Linked DNA regions of Homo sapiens. The protein of the gene in region 1 interacts with the protein of each later gene in a pairwise test. Each region holds a gene or a part of one and is shown on either strand. Other genes may lie near its edges.

What was found.
Region 2: the proteins of LZTFL1 (region 1) and PELI2 interact in binary tests that used the Homo sapiens proteins (3 or more experiments, as listed by UniProt).

What each region holds. Positions count from the first base shown.
Region 1 is NC_000003.12:45,822,203-45,834,005, reverse strand, and holds the end of LZTFL1 (leucine zipper transcription factor-like protein 1), read left to right. Parts: intron 1-884; coding exon 885-956; intron 957-2,867; coding exon 2,868-2,933; intron 2,934-3,015; coding exon 3,016-3,093; intron 3,094-5,390; coding exon 5,391-5,567; intron 5,568-6,546; coding exon 6,547-6,650; intron 6,651-7,673; coding exon 7,674-7,692; 3' UTR 7,693-10,690; downstream 10,691-11,803. UniProt on the Homo sapiens protein: Regulates ciliary localization of the BBSome complex. Together with the BBSome complex, controls SMO ciliary trafficking and contributes to the sonic hedgehog (SHH) pathway regulation. May play a role in neurite outgrowth. May have tumor suppressor function.
Region 2 is NC_000014.9:56,118,731-56,130,533, reverse strand, and holds part of PELI2 (E3 ubiquitin-protein ligase pellino homolog 2), read right to left. Parts: coding exon 11,797-11,803; intron 10,799-11,796; exon of another isoform or gene 10,672-10,798; intron 1-10,671. UniProt on the Homo sapiens protein: E3 ubiquitin ligase catalyzing the covalent attachment of ubiquitin moieties onto substrate proteins. Involved in the TLR and IL-1 signaling pathways via interaction with the complex containing IRAK kinases and TRAF6.

The DNA.
Region 1 (11,803 bases):
GTTCAGTCTCAATCCCACTCATAAATACTCTACTCAGAAGATTCAGAGCGCAGGCTGTAGGGTCAGCCACACCTGGGTATACATCCTGGCTCTGTCACTTCCTGGCTGTGTTACCTTGAGCAGGTTATCTGAGGTAGCTGAGCTTCATTTTACTCATCTGACAAATGGAGACAATACTAGTAGTTATCTACCTCTCTTTCTAATCATTCTCATTAATTGGAGTGGCCACTTACCATTCCACTTCACGGGCACACCGTAAATACTCCATTGTTGGATAAATACTGCTGAGATGAATCTATGTACATACACATGCAAAATACTTTCCAGTTATTCCTTTGGGTCATATTTATGGCTAAGAAATTTCTGGATCAGAGGGCATGAATTATTTTATTTTTAATATATATTACTAAACTACTATATTATTTGTGCCAAGTTATTGTTTATCTGTATTATACTTGCCTAGATCTTCATCAATATTATTGTTTTTCACAGAGTCTAAGGTTCATGTAGAAATCACTGTTTCAGCTCCCACAGGCTAAAATTCTAGTTGCTAGATGCTAGGCTCTATATCAGATCTGGCTTTGAGCTCCTTCCGTCCCTCCTTTCTTCCCTCATTTTCCTTCTATCTATATATTTTTAAAAGATACAGGGAAGATAGGTTTTATTTTTGTCTCTAACATGTATGGGGCACTGTAGGACAGGCATATCCTAGGCACTGGGAGTAACAAAGGATGAAACCAACAGAAATCTCCACACCTGTGGAACTGACATCGCAGTGAATATGTTTATATATAGTATCTTCCACTTGCAAAGTGCAAGTGTTCAATGATTATACATGCTTTATTCTGTGGTGATTTCAGTTTGGTTTCTTTATTTTGTTTCAGCCCATCTTAGATGTCACAAAGCCAAAACTTGCTCCACTTAATGAAGGTGGAACAGCAGAACTCCTAAACAAGGTAATATTATTATTTTGAGAAACGGAAAGTCTCTCATTCTGTCCTGTCATTGCCTAGGGTGGAGAAACAGAAGTGGAAGGTTTGTTTCAGGTCCTCTGAGGATAATTAGTCCATTGCAGTAGTTTTACTTGATGGTACCCCATGGGCCAGAAGAGGGCATACTTAACCTTCTAGAGAGCCTGAAGTAGCTCCTGATCACACCTTTTCAAGGTAAAGTGAAGAGCATGAAATTTTGGACAGCGTTTATTGATGGACATTTAAAGTTTGTGATCTGCGGTAACAAGGAGAAGGGTTTTTAAGTTTATAAAAATTATTTATCAATTAGCCGGGTGTGGTGGTACGTGCCTATAGTCAGAGCTACTCGGGAGGCTGAGGCAGGAGAATTGCTTGAACCCGGGAGGTAGAGGTTGCAGTGAGCTGAGATCACGCCACTGCACTCTAGCCTGGGCGACAGAGCGAGACTCCATCTCAAAAAAAAAAAAAAATTATTTATCAGCACAGGTTGAGTATCCCTTATCCTTGGGACTAGAAGTGTTTTGGATTTCAGATTTTTGAATATTTGCATTATACAGACCCCAGTTGAGCATCCCAAATCCAAAAATCTGAAATCTGAAATGCTCCAATGAGCAGTTTCTTTGAGCATCATGTCAGCACTCAGAAAGTTTCTGATGTTGAAGCATTTCAGATTTCAGCTATTTTTCATGACCCTTGTATTCTCAACATTATGCTAGATGTTGTTAGAAATAAAAAGCAGTGTAATACCTGCTCCCTTGCCCTCAAAAATGTAATAGTTTGGGTTTTTTATTGTTGTTTGTTGGTTTGTTTTTTTGAGACAGAGTCTTGCTCTGTCGCCCAGGCTGGAGTGCGGTGGCGTGATCTAGGCTCACTCCAAGCTCCACCTCCCGGGTTCACGCCATTCTCCTGCCTCAGCCTCCGAGTAGCGCCTGCCACCACGCCCGGCTAATTTTTTGTATTTTTAGTAGAGATGGGGTTTCACCATGTTAGCCAGGTTGGTCTTGATCTCCTGATCTTGTGATACGCCCGCCTCGGCCTTCCAAAGTGCTGGGATTACAGGTGTGAGCCACCGTGCCCGGCCAAAAATGTAATAGTTTTATTGGGAAAGTAGAACTGATGTTCTAGAAATAGAGACCAGAGAATATTCTCCTGTGTGCTACAGGTGTCATACTGGGTAGCAGAGAAGACTCAGTTGTGTGTGGATAACAGTAGGTGAGAACAGGCTCTTGGGTAAAGGGGTACCTAAGCTGGGCCTTGAAGGATGAAGACCAGTTAAATTGTAGAGGAAAGAGAAGTGAGTGTGTTGGGCAGGAGAACAGAACAGGCAGTGGTCAGACAGGAGGCGGCATGACTTGAAACAGAGTGCAGTGCCCTCTGACTGGGCTGATGTGTTTATTTGAGTCTACTGAAAAATAACACAGATGATTCAAATGTTTGAGCTGTATAAGAACAAAAGTGTTTGGCCTCACCTCAGTCAGAAGCATCTGTGGGCTTGAGCATGGTACTGAAGTGAAGGAGTTCTCAGGATAAGGGGCAACAGTGTGCAGTGTAGGCTGAGAATAGACCCAGGATTTGCAGGACCAGCTAGGAGAAAGTTGGCAGGGAAGCGGGTCTTTGGAAAAAAATTTGAAAACAGAAAACAGAGGACTGAAAGAGGGAAGATGTGTCTGAGAAACTGAAAGAAAAGAAACTAGATGTCTTAGATCCAAAGCTGACTCACAGATACTGAGGCTGATAGGCTGGATGAAATTGGGATATTACCAAAATATCAGTAGTACATTTTTGAGCTATTATGTAATTTAAATTTAAAAATTAGATTTTTAAGTGAAACAAGTAATAATTTCAAATATTAAAATATTTTGGTTAATATAATAAAATTTGAATTTACTCACAAAGGAAATTTTAAGACTTCAAGAAGAGAATGAGAAATTGAAGTCAAGGTTGAAGACCATTGAAATACAGGTAACTGAGAAATGTTTTGACACAATTATTGAACTGCCTACAGATTAAATACTGAAAGTGTTTTGTTTAAACTTCACTATAGGCTACAAATGCACTGGATGAAAAGTCAAAACTAGAAAAAGCACTGCAAGATTTACAGCTTGATCAAGGAAATCAAAAGGTGAAACAAGTTTTAGCTACCTTTCTCACATTTTCTAAGTAGAATGAAGTTATAAACTTAAAATTAAGTCTTAGTTACTGCTCACTGTACCCCACCCCTGCTACTCCCTGAGACAAATGCCTCTATTGTCATGTGTTGGGACATTCTTGCCCCCAAAAGGCCTGGTGAGAACCAGTGACCTTCCCTCTGTCCATCCTCTAGGGCAGAGGGGACAGTACATAGCTCACACACCTGCAGTTTCCCTGGCATGCAAGATATTCTCACATTTATTTTTTAAGTTTTTCTACAATCTTCCTGGTATGCAAGATATTCTCACTTTTTTTTTTTAAGTTTCCCCTCTCACTTTGACATCCAATTACAGTGGAGGGGAAAGAAAATGAAAAGAAAAGTTTTTAATTGGTTTATATTTGGGTTTTATTATACTGAACATTACTTAAGTTTGCCTTTGATGAGTGTGACAAAATGATTATGAATCTGCAGATGCGTCTGTACCCGCCGGCACCATAGAGTACAATGAAATCCAGTGTTGTAGTTCTTCATGCTTGTCTGAATGTAATGACTGAATGTCACTCCGCCTGCGGGAAGTCATTGTATGTACAGTCTGTCTCCTGTGGACTTTCTGTTGAGTGTGCATGCTGCAGTATGATTTCCTGTGAGCAGGACCATTTGGGTAGATATTCAGTACAGCATTGGCTTTTCTAGTGGTCATACTCTCATTGCAAATGTCTGGTAAACAAACCCAAAATCTGCTTCACTGGGCTTTTGCTAATCTTTTCTCTATGAAAAATTTCAAACATACACAAAAGTAGAGAGAATAGTATAATGAACCCCCATGCACTCTTCACTCTATTTAGCAGTTACCAATGCATGGCCAGTCTGGTTTCATTTGTACCTCTACTTTCTTCTTCCCACCAGCCATGTTTTTTTGAAGCAAATCTCAGACGTTGAACCATTTTATCTGTAGATATTTTTAAAATAGGAGGATACTTCTTATATAGCTAATGATTTTCAACCATTATATGCCAATGACAATAGATTTATAAAAACACGAATGTTCCAGAACCGCTTTATAATTTCTCCTAAGTCAAACAATTGCAAACACATGTGGCTGATGAATTTGTTTAAAAGCTTTTTGGGGCTTTGCTCCAATTTTACTTTAAGATTTTGGACACAAGAACAACCAGTGAATACGTGCTTTTATTAGTTGCAATGAAAATCTTTTTTTCAAAGACCAGATTTCAAAAATGAGGAAAGATTTTTTTTTTCTTCTGTTGAAAGTACTTTTTTTTTTTTTTTTTTTTTTTCTTTTGAGACAGGGCCTTATTCTGTTTCCCATGCTGGAGTGCGGTGGTGCAACCATGGCTCACTACAACCTTGACCTCACCGGCTCAAGCGATCCTCCCACCTCAGCCTCCCAAGTGGTTGGGACCACAGGCATGTGCCACCATGCCTGGCTAATTTTTTATATTTTTTGTAGAGACGGGGTCTTGCTCTGTTGCCCAGGCTGGTCTCAATTTCCTGGGCTCAAGTAGTCCTCCTCCCTTGGCCTCCTAAAGTATTGGAATTACAGGCGTGAGAGCCACTTGAAAGTACTAAGTATTTCTTCATCTACATATTAACCAATTGTAGACCATTTTACTGTCTTATCAGTACAAATGTTTTTTCTGTCATGAATCTTATCCAGTCAAAAACAAGATCCAGGAAGAGAGAAGATCCAGTGCCTGTCTTATGCTATAGTTGTCAAAGTATGCAAAAATTACACATATCTCATGAATATAAAAAACTTAAAATCTTAAAAATTTAGAAAACCATGTAATCAGTAATTGTGCTCTCATATTATTTCCTTGTAAATAATGACTAAAACATATGTCTATTAAGTTTTTGGTATAAATTATATTACTTTTATCATTTTTTCTATCATTTTGAAGAATTCAAACTTCTTTGAGGATTTTTTTAAATTTGGCTTTTCAAAATGAAACCTGTTTGCCATCTCAACCCTGGTACACACATCTTGGATGGAAATACCAGCAGTTCACAAATCATATTTTATGTATTTGGAATTCAGTGGCTACTGAGTGTCGGCTGTGTGCAAGACACCACGTACCCAGGGCTGACAATGGACTGGCCTGCTGGTGACTCTGAAGGGGCTGGCACTTACCTAGGCTGGCAAGGGAGGCTGGCATGCACACAAAACATACATCATTTTTTTCATCTCCTATGATGTTGAATCACCATTCTAAAACAGTTATTTTTAGAATATCAACATGAAATTACATGCATGCATTTATTTTTCATAGGATTTTATAAAGGCCCAAGACTTAAGTAACTTAGAAAACACTGTCGCTGCCTTAAAGAGTGAGTTTCAGAAGACACTTAATGACAAGACAGAAAACCAGAAGTCACTGGAGGAGAATCTGGCGACAGCCAAGCACGATCTACTCAGGGTTCAGGAGCAGCTGCACATGGCTGAAAAGGTCAGAAGACCATGTTTAAGGGATTTGTCTGTTAATGCATGATTAATGCACACAGTATAGAGGAATACATGTGGCTAAGATAAACGTTGGACAACTGCAAATTCAGATTATTTTTTCTCAAGGTATTAGCCAATATGTTCTAAAGATTAATCATTTCCGGGCACTGATATTCTTCCATCTTTGGTACTAAAATATCTGTGATAATAAGACATCTCCTCTCCCTCTATGGTGTAGTGAAATGCTCCTCTGTAGGTGGCTTGAATCCTGCCCTACATCCCACCATGTTGCTCTTCTGCTCCTTCTTCCCACAGCCTGCAGAGGGATGAGGGACTGTTTTTTTTAAGGACTTCTATACTTTTGTCATAATTTATATAAAATATGTAGAGAGCTAGATTCTTCACTTTGGGGATTAGACTCTTAAGAATATGGGAGTTGAGGCCGGGTGCAGTGGCTTGTGCCTGTAATCCCAGCACTTTGGGAGGCCAAGATGGCAGGATTGCTTGAGCCCAGGAGTTCAAGACCAGCCTGGCCAACATAGCAAGACCCCCATCTCTATAAAAAAATTAAAAATTTTTTCATATAAAAAATGGGAAAAAAGAATATGGGAGCTAAAATTTAACTAAATTAAAAATCATTTTGCTAAAATACACTACTATGGGACTTGGGAAAAAAGTGTGCTTATTTTACAGGAAAATTAGTTTAATATTTCAAATAGATTTATCATATCCAGGGCTTGAGTTATTTACCAACACTGTACTTGGGAAAATGTTACTATTTTATGGCTTCTCATTTGAAAGAATATATTTTTAAAGTTTGGATAGTCTTAGTTTTATATAAATGTGTCCTTTAAGGAAATTAGAAAATCATTAGCAAAATACTAGTAAAATTCAAGCAAAAAAAACTACATATTTTTATCGCATTTGTTATCTCTTTCCTTAACTATTTTTTTAGTAATGGGCTGACATTTTTTACTAAGCAGGAATTAGAAAAGAAATTTCAGCAAACAGCAGCTTATCGAAACATGAAAGAGATTCTTACCAAGAAGAATGACCAAATCAAAGATCTGAGGAAAAGACTGGCACAGTAAGCCACACTGATCCCGCCTTTGGATTTCTCTCTCTGGATTGATGTTTGTTCTCTGTTAAATCTAAGCTTGTTCCAGAGAGGTCAAGCCGGTGGTAGTTGCTGGATCATTTAGTCCAGAAGCCTTCATTTGAGGAAAGTGGAGGAGCTCTGGCCTGACCTTATCTATAATGCCCACCAGGGCTTCTTTTTAGGTTCATCTAGGCCTTTAGACTCACACAGGCCTACAGTAAGCTGCTCTTGGCAATGGATTCACTTAGCAGGATGTCAGACAGGAAACACAGCAAGCTCGCAGGGCAGCATTAGGTAGTTCTCTTCTCCTTGGTGGTATACTCTAAGCAGTCCAAGAACTGGTCTTACTGTTCCCCTAAATGACAGTTTAAGTTGGAGAGAATGAGATTCATGCAGATGGGTGTCATAGCCAGCTTGGCTTAGAAGTCCGTGTTCTACATAGGATTAGTATCTCTCTTAGCAGTCACATGATACCCAGTTAAGGGTATGTCCAGTTAAAAGAACTCATCGCACAGGGGGAAACCTAAAGTGGTGGCTCCCACCATGTATTTATAGTTCATTCATAGTCCTCCAGGTCCAGATGTGGTCATCAGATGTTTTGCCTGGAAACTGAGTTGACATTTTACCTTTATCAGAGTTCCAGGGGAGCAGAGCTAGAAAGGGAATTCAAGGTGAGATTTGTCCTTAGAGAAGTAGATTTGCTAGCCCTTTACTCATATAGTCGTATCAACTGTTCTTGTCAACATGATGATTGAGGTAATTATATGAAGTTATCACAGGTCTAAATGCCAAATATACAGACTTGGAGCCTTAGCAGTGATCTGGCCTATCCTCCTACCTGATGTAAAAATCCCCTCTGAGTCACCATCAAAACAAAGTTGAATGTGTCCAACTTCTACCGTAACAGTAATTTGAAGTGAGAAATATAGTGCCACTGCTTCAAGTAAACTTATTTGGTAATAACAACAACAAAAGGTATCCTGACATTGTGTTCTTAATTTATATCTCCAGATATGAACCTGAAGATTAAAACTGAAGATTTCCTCTGGAAGCTACCACATGCAAACATACAAGCAGTCTCACCTCAGGCATGTATTTTGAAAAGCATTTTGTCATATCCCCTCTCCTTATTTTTCTAATATTTAGACTTTGAATATTTAGAACTAGAGTTCCTATTTTCAGCTAGTTGAAAACAGAGAAAACCTAGTGATTCTGTCTGGTCATCCCACACACCTCTCTACTGAGTGCTCCAGAGTCTTAGCTCACATGCACTGAGAATTCTTTACAGCAAAGAAGAGATTTTTAGAGTGGGAAGAAGAGGCTTATCCTTCTGCATTAGTATAAAGAGTCTGTATTTTTAATAAATGTTAAATAAGCTAACAATGTTTGTACTTATGCATTCCCCATGGGTAAAAATAAATAATAGCATTGTTAAAGATAGTTATTACCAAAAAAAGAGAGTTATTACAAATAAATATGTCTCTTTATTTTTAAAAATGAAATCTTAATTCATTTACTCTATTTGATGATAAACTATAAATTCATTGAAAATGTGAATTCTATTATGGGTAGCCTTTTTACCAATTATAAGGAAAATTTACAGCAGTGAACATGAACATTCACTTAGCTTCCTCAGTCTCTCCATCTTAAAGATCATTTATCAGAGGAGGTTCAGCATTTTTTGCAGCATAACTTTTCATGAGTCTGTATTACTAATGGATAAGTCAAATCCATCCTGCACTTCTACAGTTTAGAAAGTATCTGGACTCAGAATAAATGTAATATTTATACTTGTTTCCAGAATGTTATTTTACATTTTATGTTCAATAAGAACACTTTTTAAAAGACGTATATTCAACATAAAATCAGCTATCAGACTTCAGATTAGACTTTATTTATGTGGGTCTATAATAATTGTATTTTCAAGAGGTTTTCACTATATTTGTATTGGCCTGGTTTTCTCAGACGATTTTGGACAAATCATTAGAAACTGGGCATCATATCCACAGTTATGTAAGGCAGTGATATACTATAAGGATAAACAAAGTCAAGTCCATAAAGCAATAATCCCTCAGAAGGAAAGTCCTTACTTTTCACATATTAATATTTAGTAATTTTTCCTGCTTCTAAAAGTGAGAGTATCACACCCTAAATGAACACTGTCTACTAAGAGACATCATTCCATTTCCACAAATGAAGATTTTATTCCAAGAAACGAGTTTACTGATTGGAGCATAGGGCTTGTTGTTATTTTTATTCAAGCTTTTAGTAATAGCCTTGAATTTATTATTTTTCTTATAGGCTTTTTGTTAAAATAGTGAAGGAACAAATGTTAAAGGGTAAGATAATTTCCCTGCAAAAGGACACAGAAGGCAGTCTTAAGAAGATGAATGGATGAGAGAAGGGAGAGAATAAAATGCAATAACGAGCCAGCATTTACTATGTATTTTCTCCTCACCTGTCTCTCCATATTTAGGTCACTTACCAGTTTCTGTGCCCTTTTGGAGCTTTTGTTGAGGGCTTCATTCTCACCCTGTATTTCTTTAGCCCTAAATTGACACTCTCTCCAAAAATCCATTCCATTGTCTGTGGACCAAGATGTTCTATGTAATTCAGAAGCAGAACTCTTGGCTAAAGGGCTAGTGTGGCCTTCAGAAACCATTCAATTATTTTCTCCCTACACCTTTGTCAGTTTGAAACCAGTGAGGAAAAAAGGTATGTTGATAAGAAACCTATATTGCTAGGTAGAATTTGTACTTGTTTTCTTGGTAGCAGTTTTGAAATATTCTGTACAGTACGTTCCTATTGTTTAATAATAAATTCAAAAATATTTCTAAAACCTTAAAACCAACTATGCCAAGCATTAAGATAAACAAATATGATGTTCTTTGACGTAAATCAACGTGATGATTCTTTCACATGTAAACACATTTTAGTGTTTCTGGTTTGTCATTTTTGTTGTTGTTGTTGTTGTTGTTATTTACTCTATACCCTTTAGCAAAATACAGTTTTAAATTTTTATTGTTTTTAGTAGTTTCCCAACTTTAAGACTTATCTAATTTAACTGAGAAAGAAAGCCTTTTTCATATATATATATATTGGATTTCTAAGGATGGTGGTTTGAGCCTTGATTAGACTTTTGATGTGCTAAGCCAGACAGGCAGTCTGTACATTGATGGCCATCACAATGCAGCTTTGGTTTAATTTAATTCAGGCCTGCTGCTGAGTTATGCACAGACTTTTTGTTGACCAAAATAAAATATAAAGGGTTTTCTTCTGTTTGACATTTGTGTTCATTTTTTCTCTTTATGTATTACATTTTAACCTATATTAAATAAATGTTTAAATGATAATTTGCTTATGTCTTATAAAACTCAGCATAAGAAAAATACTGCCCTACCTTGACTGTGTAATCTTATTTGATAAAGCCTTTGCTATTCATTATTTCCATTCTGATTAACTGAAAGAGATTTATAGAGATGCTCAAATTTTAAGCCCTTGGTGCTTTTAGATATATATTGGTTGCAAAAGTTTGGCATTAATGATTTCCCTCTGCTTATGTGTAAATGCCTATGTTCCAAAGCTTTGCCACTAGATATTCAAATCATAAATTGTCATGTAAGCCAGTCTTCCAGAAAGAAAAGCTATTTCAGCAAAATGATATTTCACATTTAGACAAAACAGTAGTATTTAGACAATAATATTTTGACAAAACCATTTTCAAAACTGCTTAGGAAAAAGGGGAAATATTATACTTAAAGGTAATGACCTCTGTCTTGAATAGAGGTGAGTGGGTTGGTGACAACTGGTTTGGAGGCTTTTGTGGGGGACTGTGGTGTCTTTTGGATTGTGTCATCAGCTCCTTCATCAAGTAAGCGTGTAGCTGTTATTGCCTATTGTAAAACATGAATTGATGTGAACAGTACTCAATCTCTTACATTATATGAAGTATAACTTCCTCTCTTTTTTGCCTATAATACATCCTTTAACTTTTACAGATTAAAAAACCACTGTTAGACAAAGCAAAATGGAACTTGGAAAATCCTTTATAGTTTTGTAAAATAACAATGGGCTTACTGTCAAATTAACTAACAGCTTATTAAATGGATTTTCATGAGCACTTGGAAAAGAAACATAACCACCAGGAGCCAGCATGGATCTCCCTAGTAAGAAATCAGGTATGGCAGGGCCAGTCGCGGTGTCTCATGACTGTAATTACAACGCTTTGGGAGTTCCAGGCAGGGGGATCGCTTGAGGCCAGTAAGTCAAAACGAGCCTGGCCAATATCGCAAGACCCCATCTCTACAAAAAATTTAAAAATTAGCTGCACATAGTGGCATGTGATCACATGATACGGCAGACTAAACTCGTTTGTCTTTTTTTTTTTTTTTTGAGACAAGAGTCTCACTCTGTTGCTCAGGCTTGAGTGCAGTGGCGTGATCTCAGCTCACTGCAAGCTTCACCTCCCAGGTTCAAGCCATTCTCCTGCCTCAGCTTCCCGAGTAGCTGGGACTACAGGCACCTGCCACCATGCCTGGCTAATTTTTTTGTATTTTTAGTAGAGACGGGGTTTCACCATATTAGCCAGGATGGTCTCGATCTCCTGACCTCATGATCCGCCCACCTTGGCCTCCCAAAGTGCTGGGATGACAGGCGTGAGCCACTGCGCCCGGCCTCATTTGTCTTTTTAAAAGCATGAGAGGTATAGTATGTCAGAATTTCAGCAAGGTGCTTGACAAAGACCTCATGATAGTCTTGTTGAAAAGAATCGTAGGTGGGTTTTCCCAAATGTAGACTATAGGATAAGGATTTGGGTGCAGGTAGTTTATTTGGGAAGTGATTTCAGGAAATCCCGCGGAAGACTGAGGAACTGAGACAGATCGAAAGAGTCACCACTATGGGCAACTGGGACCCAATCCTGCTGGGGACCCTCTGAGACATGGTACAGAAAACATCTCTGAATTATTACACTGAAGGACAAGGTAGCTGGGAATATTATCCACCACTTTCCATCCCTCACTGGTTGAGGTTAGAAATCTGAGGTATTAATTCCTTGCCATGTCCAGCCTGCCTGGATGTAGACCAAATTCCAGAGAATGCTCTCAGGCAAAGAGACTCCTCCAGAAGCCAAGCATGGGAAC
Region 2 (11,803 bases), on another chromosome or scaffold:
ACTGGTAACTTCTTTGAATGAGTGAAGTTTTACACCACTATGTTTAATGAGAATACCCAGTATGGCAAGGGTTTGGTTAAAAAAAAACAAAATAAAAACATACAAAACTGCTTTGGAACACACACAGTAAAGGCAGGATTGAACAACTTGGAGTCAGAAAGACCTAGGTTCGAATCAGCACTCTGTCACATGTGGCCCTGAACAAGCTTCTCAAGCATCACGACTCAGTTTCATGCATAAAATGATGAGTGATGGTACCTACCTCCCTTGCTAAACATTTAAAGAGGCCACACACGAATAGCACTTTACAAAGAACCCAGCTAAGAATCAGCACTCAATAAAGGACAGATACCATCAGGGCTCAGGAGCCAGCCCTCTGGGGACCTCCCCCAAGGAGCAGGAAGAACCAACCCACTAAGCAGCAAGAGTCTAGCCAGAATTTCCTCATCTCCTCAGGAAAAGAAAAAAAAAAACTCAGATCTCGATGCTTCCTCTTTAAGGATCATTTTTAACTGCAGGTTCTGGCCAGGGACCTCCACTTCAATTCAAAAGGAGCACCCTGAAGAAATGGCAGAAGTTGAGATGGGAACACGACCAGGCCAAGCAGGGCAGCCCCTCAGTGATCCAAGACCACCACCTGCAGCAAACACTGCAAGGCCAGAAATCTGCTCTGCTCTTTTCTCCAGCAATGGGATCAATTACACCCTCAGAGGGGCTGGTCTGGGGGCTAAATGCCAGTCCTCACCTGCTCCACACTATTGCTGCCATAGCTCAGCAAGAGACAGCCAAGACCCCAAGGCAGAGGGACAAGTCCATCCCTGCTTGAAACAACAGCCTGGAGGAAAAGCAGCCCATTCTGCCTCCTGAGGGCGATCCCCTAGCTGGTGGGCACACTGTGCATCCTCCCATGCAGGAAAGAGCACAGGGCTATGGGTCCTTCTCCTCGTTTCTTGGGGGACAAAGCACTCAGGACCCCATCCCTTGGGCCTCCAGGGAAAGCAAGGCTCCAGAGGCACAGTTGTCTGAATGGGTAACAGGAAAGAGTTCTTGGATCACTAACTGCTCTGCCAGTGGAGTTTAACCCCAAAACATTCACTGGTTCCAGCACAAGTTTCAAAATCAAACCACTGAGTGCCCAAATAATTAAATGGATCACGTTATCTCACCTCACCCTTGCCATCGCACAGAAGGGGGCTACGCCCATTGTGAGCAACTGTTCTTTGGCAGGGGAAGAGAGACAAAGGTAGGAGGGAAATGAATTACAAAAGGGAAAACAAGCCTATTTGGAGATTTCAAGCAAGACTGGGTCCTAAGGATTAGTTCACTAACCTACTCAGAAGGCTGACACTGCCTGCTACCTAGAGTCTGCAATAATGCCTTGAAATGTTATTAGCAGGGCTTCCCCCTCCCAGAGGCCACAGCCTTTACTGGGCCCAGGTCCTTCCTTTCAAGTCTCTCTCATCACAAAGGCCCTCTCACCCCTTCAATTCCAAAGGCACTGGATATCCCTCAGCCTCTCAGCCCCTCAACCTCTCGATGTGCCTTCAGGTACTCTGCTTTCCCCTTGCTAACCCTTAGCTAACTCACCCTTTCTACCTCTGCTGACATAGAATTCCCTCCCTCCCCACAAAAACCTGCCCTCCCCCAAAAACAAATTTTGTCCCCTACTGTACACGAAACCCTGTACTTCTCCTTGGCAGCACCTTGCCAGGTTTGCTTAAAGGGCTTCCTTCTTGATGGACTGTAAGCTCCATGAAGGCAGGGACCACTCTGAGATTACCTACTATAACCCTAGCCCAAATATTTCAATACCCCAACAATACCCCAACCTGACTTTCCAACTTCACCTCCCTCCCCAAGTACTTCAGCCTCCAGCCATACCCCTCAAGGTTCCAAAATCGCCATGCTTTTACTACCACTGCTCTATAAAAAACCCAGGTCACCTCTCAAGGCTCTGCTAAAGGCCAACTGCCCCAGGAAATCTTTCCCAATCTCCCAGCAATACACATGCCTCTCACCTTCACCCTGGTGGAAATAATCAAGCAAGAGAGCCACAAGGACCTACCTTCTAATCAGATTCCCACTAACTAGGGGAGTGAGCTTGGACAAGTCATTAAGCTGGAGCCTCATTGCCCAGATAATAAATTTGAACTCCTGGAAAGGATAATGTAAACCACCTAACGGAACCTGGCATATAGTATGCCCAGAGCTCTCGCCCACCATCCCGCTACACCCTAATTAATGATTTGTTGCTAAGTCATCTGTCTTGCCCTTAGACTGTGTACCCCTGGGGGGCATTTCCTTATGTAGGCTCCACCACCCCTAGTCCTCTGAAGTGAAATCAGCCTCGTAAAACAGCAACAACAGCATCACCTAACACAAACTGAATGATCAGTGTTTAGTGTGTATGTTTAGATAGTGCTTAATTCCTAGTATGTACAGGCAATCCCATTTTTTTTTCTTCATCTTAAAGTTCAGGGGTCCATGTGCAGGATCAATGAATCCCATTTTTAATATACCCATGCAGAACACACATGCAATAAAATATATACATACACACATGCATCTCAAAATTCTTAGTGTAATTTTAAGCTTTAAAAACAACAAAATTATAAAAGCAACAGACTTAACATCATCTGGAAGTTCAATTATTTAAATTTCTTTTACACTCAGTTGATCAATTTTGAATGCAAAAGTTTTGATTTCACATCTTTTAGTCCCTCTCATTAGAAATGAAAAATGCTAAAATTCCCCAAACAGAATCTGGGGAAATTTCAGAAGTTACGTTCACTTTAGCTACTAGAGGAATGTTTTCATTTTCTTTCTATGGCAAAGTGTTCAATCTGGAGGCAGTAACCAGTGGATTCTAGGCCTGTAGCTCTCCCAACCCTGAGTGCTGTGCAGGTGGCTGGCAGCAGTGGCTGCTATCAAATTTTGTCTCTCTTTTGTAAACTGCACCACACAAGAGCCATCTTCTGCCTTGGCTTGCTTCTCACCAACACAGAACTGTTCTCCATGGTGTGGAGGAGACATAAAGTATTTCAGGAACTGTACTACCTTCTTACTGCCGACAGTCACAGACAGGTACAACCAATATAAATGAGCTCTTCATCCTGTCCTTTAACCACCCAAATGCAGTGTTAAAACATTCTTCTGGTCCTTCCACCATCCTGTACCTGCAGGATGCTTGTATAGATTACCCCACCTACTCGAATCTCTGTTAGTTCTGTTATTTCATGTCAGGTGACCTTTAAAAGCTTGAAAATCTGTGTCATGCATTAGCTCTCCTGGGTGAAAGCTGCTTATGTTCCAGTCTGCCAGAAGCATGGTTCTCAGTAAGCTAGGCTATTCTTCAACTGCCACGCTCTCAACAAATTTCAGATAATATTGGAGATTAACAAATGCAAAAAGACTTGCAGATGACTTATAAATTATAAAGCCACTCCAAAAATGCTTTTGTTAGCTAAGATTTTCAAACCGTACAGTACTTAATGTTTGGAATAACTCATCAAAAAGGCTGAAATTGTGCTCACTAGAATGATCAACAACCCGAGGAGACAAAAAACAACTCAATAAAAACTTAATGAATTTATTTCCTATCAGTCTTGTCAGGTTGCATTTTGAATTCTATCCACAGCATGTGATGAAAGTACCCAAACCATAATGTAATCTTATGTACTACATCAAGGATCTAGTCAGCATAATTTTCTGGGATCTGGTGTGAAAGCACACTCCTTTGTGTCTACAATCCTTCCGCAGGAAGGGCCTTTCCCCAACGCAATCAATCAATCAATCCATCAATCAATCATCAGTCCAGAAAAGCCTAATTGCTCACCCATCACCAGTTCTGATTATAATTAGTGTTCTATAATCATGGAGCAGGAAGCACAAGATGGGAAAGGAGGGGGGCCACCGAGGTCCTCCGAGGCACTTGGTAATCACGATCAGCCGTTTTATACCAATAGCCTAGAAGCCAAACACACAACTGCTCGCTCTGGTTAAATTCTGTTAAACCAGTACTAATAAGAATGGAAGTACAAAGCTTGAAACAATGATTTCTTATCCTAAAAACAGATTCTGCATGAGCAGAAAAGCAGGGATAAGCAGAGTGAAGTGTTTGAGAGTGAGAAGCATTATGCGGATGGCTAGAAAGAAAACCTCAATCGAGAATGACTCGCAATAGCCTTAAACCTGCTGCTGAAAATGCCCCCTGATGCATATTTATTAGGTCTGTCATCCAAGAGGCTTGTATGCCACAGTATTTCCAGCCATCATTAATAGGCATTAATGACCACAGCCTTTCAACGCCACTGTGGCGCACTGCAATGCAGCTCCGAGCAGCTGGTGGAATCAGAACAGATGGCCTGCTTCCCTTCAAGGCAGGACTTTCTGCAGGTGACAACATGACTGCTAGGTGACTGACAAAAAGAAAAACAAACAAAAGTTGAAACTGGAATATCTGATGTCAGTAAAGCACATGTTTAGTTTCTCAGGGAAACTTTGACTTGGGCCCTAAAGGTTGGTAGGATTGTTTACAAAACTGCAGTTGTGCTACAGAAGCAGAGTGCTCCTTCCAAGTCCAGAAACATTCACTAAGCCCTGGCCACATCTCCATGTGGGGTGGCAAACTAGGGTGTGCCACAGAAATCCATTTCTCCAAGAGGCTCAGTGAGTACCTAACATGCACCAGAAAGGGAAGCCCAGCATTCCAAGGAGGGGGGAAGTCAAGGTTCCTACCCTCAAGGGGCAATACGCTCTGGTGGAATTCAATGGCCACTCTGGGCACATGGCAAGCAGCACAGAGGGCAGAACCACGTTTTTGTCCAGGGATACTTAACTATCTGCCCTTGTATTTGTTTACACTTCTATTTTTCCCTTCAGTAAATTGCTTATATACGTTGCCTCTTAACGGGATACTTGGAATCTTCTGATTGAAAGAGCAGAACCCACTCAAGGTGGCTTAAACAGAAAAAAAAGTAAGTAAAAACCGAAAGAAGTGGGGACTCTCAAAGGACACAGGACTATTTTCTCGGAAAAGCTTTTCCTGATTATTTTGTCCAAAAGGATCCCCCACTACCTTATCCCTAGCATTTCACCCTGCCAATTCACCCCCCCCCTGCCCACCCAATAACTCTCTTCCTCCTTATCCTGCTTTAGTTTCCTCCCAGCAGTCTCTGAAGTTCCATTTTTTATCTACTCCTTTGCTTGCTCACCTCTCTCAAAAAAAGGTAAGCTCCAAGCAGGCAGGAAGGGCAGCTGTCTGTCTTGTTTGCTGGTGTAGCCCAGGGCTGGGAGCAGTGCTGGTCCTCAGTCAGTATCTTGAGTCACTGAATGAATGGTCAATCACACGAAACTAGGTCTCAGGAGGTACCCGAACCAGGAACTAGAAGCAAGACAGCTGCCCTCTAGCTCACACTCCATTCTCTCTCTGCCTTGTTGGGCTGCAGCCTCAGTTTCTCCTTCCAACTCCACTGTGCCTTCCAACTCCACTCTGCAAAGAGCAGAGGGCTTTCTTCACTCCCATCTCATACTAGCAAAACCCTGAGACAGTCTCCTGTGCTCTTAGGGTAAAGTCCAAACCCCTTCCAATATCTTATAAGCCCTTCATGATATCCCCCCATCATCATCCCTCACAATGTTTCATTCAATCATTCTTTCCTAGCCATAAAGAGTGTTTCTCTGTTCCTCAAAGTAGCTGCACGTTTTCATCTCTAGGTTGCAGAATACTCCAAACCTTCTTCGGAAAGCACTCCTTCCCTCTTATCTCCATCGTGGTCATCCCCATCTCATCCTGGCACATGGCTAGGGGACCCTGCTAACACATCCACCATCCCAGCCTTCAGGTCTTCCAGCTAGGCTGTCAGTGCTGCAGCAGCAGGGACCATGACTGTCTTGTTCATCTGCGTATCCCTTAGTGCAATCCACAGCATCTGACAAGTGGCAGATGCTCAAATATTTGGGGAATAAATAAATGAACCATGTATCAGTAACGGTTATTCACAAAGAGGCTGGGACAAAAATAAGAGAGCAGTTCACCAGGAAAAGGAATGTGTCTGCCTTGTCCTAGCTGTATTCCTCATGCCTGGAAGAGTAGACAGCCAATAAATATTTGCTGAATGCATACATTCCTGGCTTGCCTGATGTAACTCCACCCCTTTCTCTCCCACTTGAGAAAACACATCAGAATGCAAAAGGGTGAAAAATGACATTATTAACATGACATATCTGAATCATTTGAAAGATCCACACTTTATTACTTGTCATAAATTACTGGCCACATACCCTCAAGACTGATCATCACATATGAGGTACTTGAGACAGTGGTTGAGAACAGGTGATTTAGACAAAGCTAAGAAATATGAAGCACTTTCTGCTCTTATTATTTTATTTTCCAGAAGATGAAGGTGACAATAAGCTCAGTAAGAACTAATAACTGAATTATTCTAACCTTTACTTTTCTTTTTATAAAATAGATTTCTGCACACCCCAGGAGAAACGTTTAATTAAATCAAAAGACATTATAAATTCCTTTTCACAGTTATTTTTCTCCCATACCAATGAGGTCTACCAAGTTGCTGTTGTCTCCATTCAAAAGCCAACCTACAACCCCATATACCTACTTTCAGGAAGGCCACACTGCAAGCCCTGCACAGCAGATATAAAACCAGTGCTCCAATGTGACAATATTGGTCTTCCTCAAATATAGCAACGGCTATTTTGTTTTGTTTTGGTCCTTTGTGCATAAGTATTTTATCTTTTCGATAAAATGTTTGGTAAAATTACTGAACCTGAATCAAGCCTGTTTTACTTTCATTTATACACAGCATCCCCAAATATTGATCACAGGATGAAACACAACCAGAAATGAAAAGACCTAATGAAGCTTTCAGTCTTGGTGTGTTAAAGAGAGAAATAAATAAATCTGAGAAAGCCAGACCAGAAACCACACAGCAACACAGACAGCCACATATTCCAAACAAGGCTAAAGTTAGTAAAGGAAAATATAGCAACTCAAAGCCAGTAACACCGTAACCCTTAATAGCCCACAGAATTAGACACTCCATCCACACAAACAGATCTGAGCTCTTCAGATCACCCCACATGCTGAGCTACAGTAAAGATTTTGTTTTATAAATTTTTTTAAAGTTCAAAGACCTTTTAGTCTATAAAAGATACTAATGTTTGATGTCTTTGGGCCCAAATTAGAGTGGAGGATGAGAAAAGGAAAAGTGTTAGGGTATATTTGAAGGTTTCTTATTGCCACCAAAGGGTGGAGTAGTCAAGGCAAAGTGCTGAGGTTACAGCAACAACAAAAAGCATACAGAAAGTGGGACCTGCTTTTAAAAAAAAAAAAAAGACCATAAACTCTACAAGCTACTATACCCCTCTTTGTCTTACCTAACAAAACACTGAATCATCCAAAGGAAATGAGGCAGGTATCTACCTCCTTTTGTAGAGCTTATCAATTTCTACTAAAATACTTCATTTTTCAGTCATATTTAGTCATATTTATAAATTTTCATTTGTAGAGGTTCTTACCCTCTTTTTGTGCCAAGAATCCCTTTGGCAGTTTGATGACATGTAATGAGCCCTTCTCAGACTAATGTTTTTAAACATACAAAATAAAATACAAAGGATTACAATTGGAATCACTTATACTTAAATATCAAAAGTCTTAAATTGCTATACACATGTGCACTTCTGTAATAATGCATTAAATAACAAAATCTAGCAGCAAGTCTTTTTGTTGCCTACACTCATAAGTGAATGAAAATGCTAAACTGCAGTTTGAATATCATGAAAATCAAGACATGTTTTTCCCCCATCTAAGTTCAAGAATGTCCCGAACTCCATCTGTGGACCCTAGGTTAAGAACCCTTGGTTGAGAGAGCCAATAAAAATACATTTTGTGAAGCATCAAAAGAAAAAAAAAAAGTCTTGCAAAATGCATTATCCATTCAACTGTGAGGTGAGAGGAACTAAGAGAGTAAGCAATATTTTTCCAAAAACCACCATGGGCCATTAGTCAGCAAGAGAGCCACATGCTTCAAATTGAATCCAGAAAGGATGCTTTGAGGAACTGACAGCGCTGCTGGAATCTGTCTTAAAGTGAGGAAAGGGTAGAGTAGGGGAGTACAGCCACCCAGCTCAGCCCAGATCAACTATGAACTTGAACCTCTCTTGTTCTGGGAGCCTGTGTCCTCAAGAATAAAATATAAGGGCTAAACATATACCATGACCATTAGGCCCCCTTCCAGTCCTAATTTTTTTTTATTATACTTTAAGGCTGGAATACATGTGCAGAATGTGCAGGTTTGTTACATAGGTACATACGTGCCATAGTGGTTTGCTGCACCCATCAACCCATCATCTACATTAGGAATTTCCCCTAATGCTATTCAGTTCTAAATTTTTATCATGAGATCATCTCCTCTTTATGCTGGTTATTTCAGTCTATTTAGCTAAATTTCAAAACATCACTGTCTTTCTTAAACTTGGAACATAAAGTTTTACACAATTTAAATGCTCCCATGGGTAACCTAACACCAATGAGTCAAACAGATGTATATCATTACAACTTTTTTAAACATTCTGTTTTTACGCACATCTTCATAAAAAACAACCACAGCATTGATCTTTTCTGCTATTAAAACAACTGTCAGGGAACTTAGAATATGTAACTAAATAGTTTCTACATTTGCGCCAATGAACAGAATTACTGAGCACAGACCAGGAAGGGCTCTTGAAGCCTACCTAATCCAATCATATTTTGCAAATTGATAAAGAAACAGAGAGGAGGAGGAGGAATTAAGCCAAAGTCACAGAGCCAGTCAGCAAGAGAGAAGGGCTTATTCAGGTCACCCACCTGTAAATGCATGTTCTTCCCACTATACCAAACTGCCTCTCAAATCCTGAGCCACTTCCCTAACCTTAAAACGTAAGTTTAAAATTATAGCAAAAAGACCTGCTGGTTAGACCAGTCATTTTTCTCTACCTTCAGTTAAGTAGTGGACACAACAAAGAGTTGTGGCTATGATACATTAACTGGCTGGAATCATGAAATAATTAAATTCCACTAATCAGCCCAGAAAGTGATGAGCTCACTAAAATCCTAGCTATGTGGAATCTCTTAATAATACTGTGTAACACACAAAAAGATATAGAAGTATTTAGATATGGATATAGACATCTATCAGCTCTTCATTCTGCTCTCCAGGATTTCCTAGTAATGTTTCACTATGACATTCGAAAGTGAGCAAAAAGGACAGTCACATAACCATTAAAAAAAAAAAAAGCACTGAATTTGACAAGCAAAGCTTCTATCAATACCAAATATTAGGCATTTTTAGATCTCAGGAATCATCTCATTATTCAGAAAATCTACTTGAAATTTTCTGTTTTCCAATATTTATACCCCAGAGGACATAAAGATAATATCATAAAGATGATATTAATTCTATGTGAATGTTATTGTTGTTTTAAGATGAAGTACACTGTCTCAAATCCTAAGGGTGGAATATGAATAAGGTTCTCTCTAAAAATCTTCCTACCTAGTCACTCTTTCACCTGCACTCTTCAATGTGTTCAACATTGGTAAACAGTCAGAAACCTACCCTCGAAAAAAGAAAAATACCACAATTCAAGTATTCAAAAACCAGACTAGCATCCTCTACTCACATTTCACCTCCTCAGAGAGAACTTCCCTCACCTTCCAGCCGAAGAAACCAATACCCACCTAAGCAGTCACTCTCCAAGTTTATCAACTCCTCTTCAGAACTTGGCTGCACCTGAAATTGTCACTTATTACTCCTCTATTTGCATGTTTCTTTCTGTTTATGCCTGTCACTCCACTCTAAAAGGAAAGTTCCCTGTTCTCACTGCATCAGCAATGCCTAAACAGCACAGGCACAGAGTAGGTACACAAACGACGGTTGAGTGTCTCGCCCCCTAAGTGCCAACTATGTCATACTTTGGTCTCCTGGAAAAGCATTAGCAAAGGGCAGACCATATGCAACTGCAACGTTATATCCCGGGCTCCTGTGGAGTGAGACTATGATACTAGGACAATCCAGGGTTTCAATCCTTTCCGTGGCTTCGGAATGCCCTGCACTTCCAGCTATGAACACAAAACCTCTCCAGGCCCACTCGCTGCTTTTCTGAAACATCTCAACAATGATTTCCTCAAAAGGAAATAATGAAATAAAGTTCTGGCATACGTTAATCTTCCGCGTCAAGTTCACAGTGTTAAACACACTGAAGCCAGCCACACAAACAAAACCAAACTCCACAAGATTAGGTTGGGCTGAAGTTACATAAGACAGACTAAACTGCGGCTTTTCTCCTGTCATTCCTCCCGCCTTCCTGTGAACCCTGATATTTGTCTTTGAAGTGCAATTAAGATGTAGGTGAGAAAAACACTTATCTGCAAACAGCTTCAAAATAGGTAATGAGATTTCCAATACCACCCCCACTTAATGCACTAGCAACAAAGTCAGGAAGACTGGGAAGCTTTGAGTTGTGCGGTGTCTGGAAGCTTCCCTCAAAAACTCCTCTCTTTAAATTATTTTTAAGTCAGCACTTACTTCAAGGCACTCACTTATCAAAACACGTTTTGCAAAGTTCCCTGAGTCTTCCCACAGCCATGACTCCTCATATGTGTGCTAAGCCTACCTATCAGCGCCGAGGATGTTCTGAATACAGGTCTTTCAACGCAGAAGGACAAAAGCGCGGGTTCCCAGAGCGACACATCCAAAGGAAAAAATAATCCTTTCTTCAACACTAAACCCAAGTTGTTCCTTCCCCCCAGTTTCCTGCACTTCCCCCTTCCCCCTCCCCTTTCACTGCCCACTATATCCAGTTTTAAGCCCGCAAAGCCTCTCTCCTGGCTTATTAAGGGTAAACAATAGAAATGTCACAAGGAAACTCAGGAAGTAGATGAAGTCTCTAATTGCTGCCGTTTAACGATTGTACATAATTACTATCTTCAAGATGCGGCTTTCACCAGCAGAGAGGGAGCCGAGGCGGGCGAGGCTGGCGAGCTCCCCGCAGCCGGGAGGGCATCAGCGAGGCCGGGACCGGGGGGATACGGCCCGCGCCCCGGTGCCAGGCCCCGAGCAGCCGCATCCTGTCCCTCCCCTCCAGAGCACTCCAAGCGGGGAGAAGCGGAGGGCCGGCCGGCCCGGGTCACACACAGTTCACTGCTCTCGGGCTGCGGCGGCCCGCGGCGGTCATCGGAACAATTTGCAAAGCGCAGCCGGGGATCCCACAGCCCGCGGCGGCCCAAGCTCACGGCGCCGCGCTCGGAGTTCGGGGGCGCGGGTACCACGGTCCGCGAGGGAGGTGGGAAGACGGGGCTCCGCGCCGGCCGGCCTCTCAGCTTCGGGAAGCGACCCCGCGAAGCGCCCGCGACCGCGGCGCCTCACATGGAGTCCCTGCCCGCCCTCCCCGGCCCGGACGCGGCGCGCGGGAAGTGGAGCCCCTGCCCCCGCCCCCACGATACGGCCGCGGACCCGGTGCCCGGCGCTGCCCCCGCTGGGTCGCCCGAGTTCTGGCCACTTCCTCCGCCGCGTCCTCCGCGCGGACAGCGCAGCCCGGCGTCCGCCGCAGCACCCCGAGCGCGCGCCGATGGGGCGCATCCCGCCCCCGCGCCGCCGTCCGGGCCCTGAGAGCCTCTCCTGCCGCCCCGAGCGCCCCGGCGGTCCCCAAAGAGCACCGAGCCACCCCGCCAGCCCCGCTCCAGGATGCGGGCGCTCCCCGCCCGCGCCGCTGCCCGGGACCAGGGACCCCAGGACTCACCCGAGCA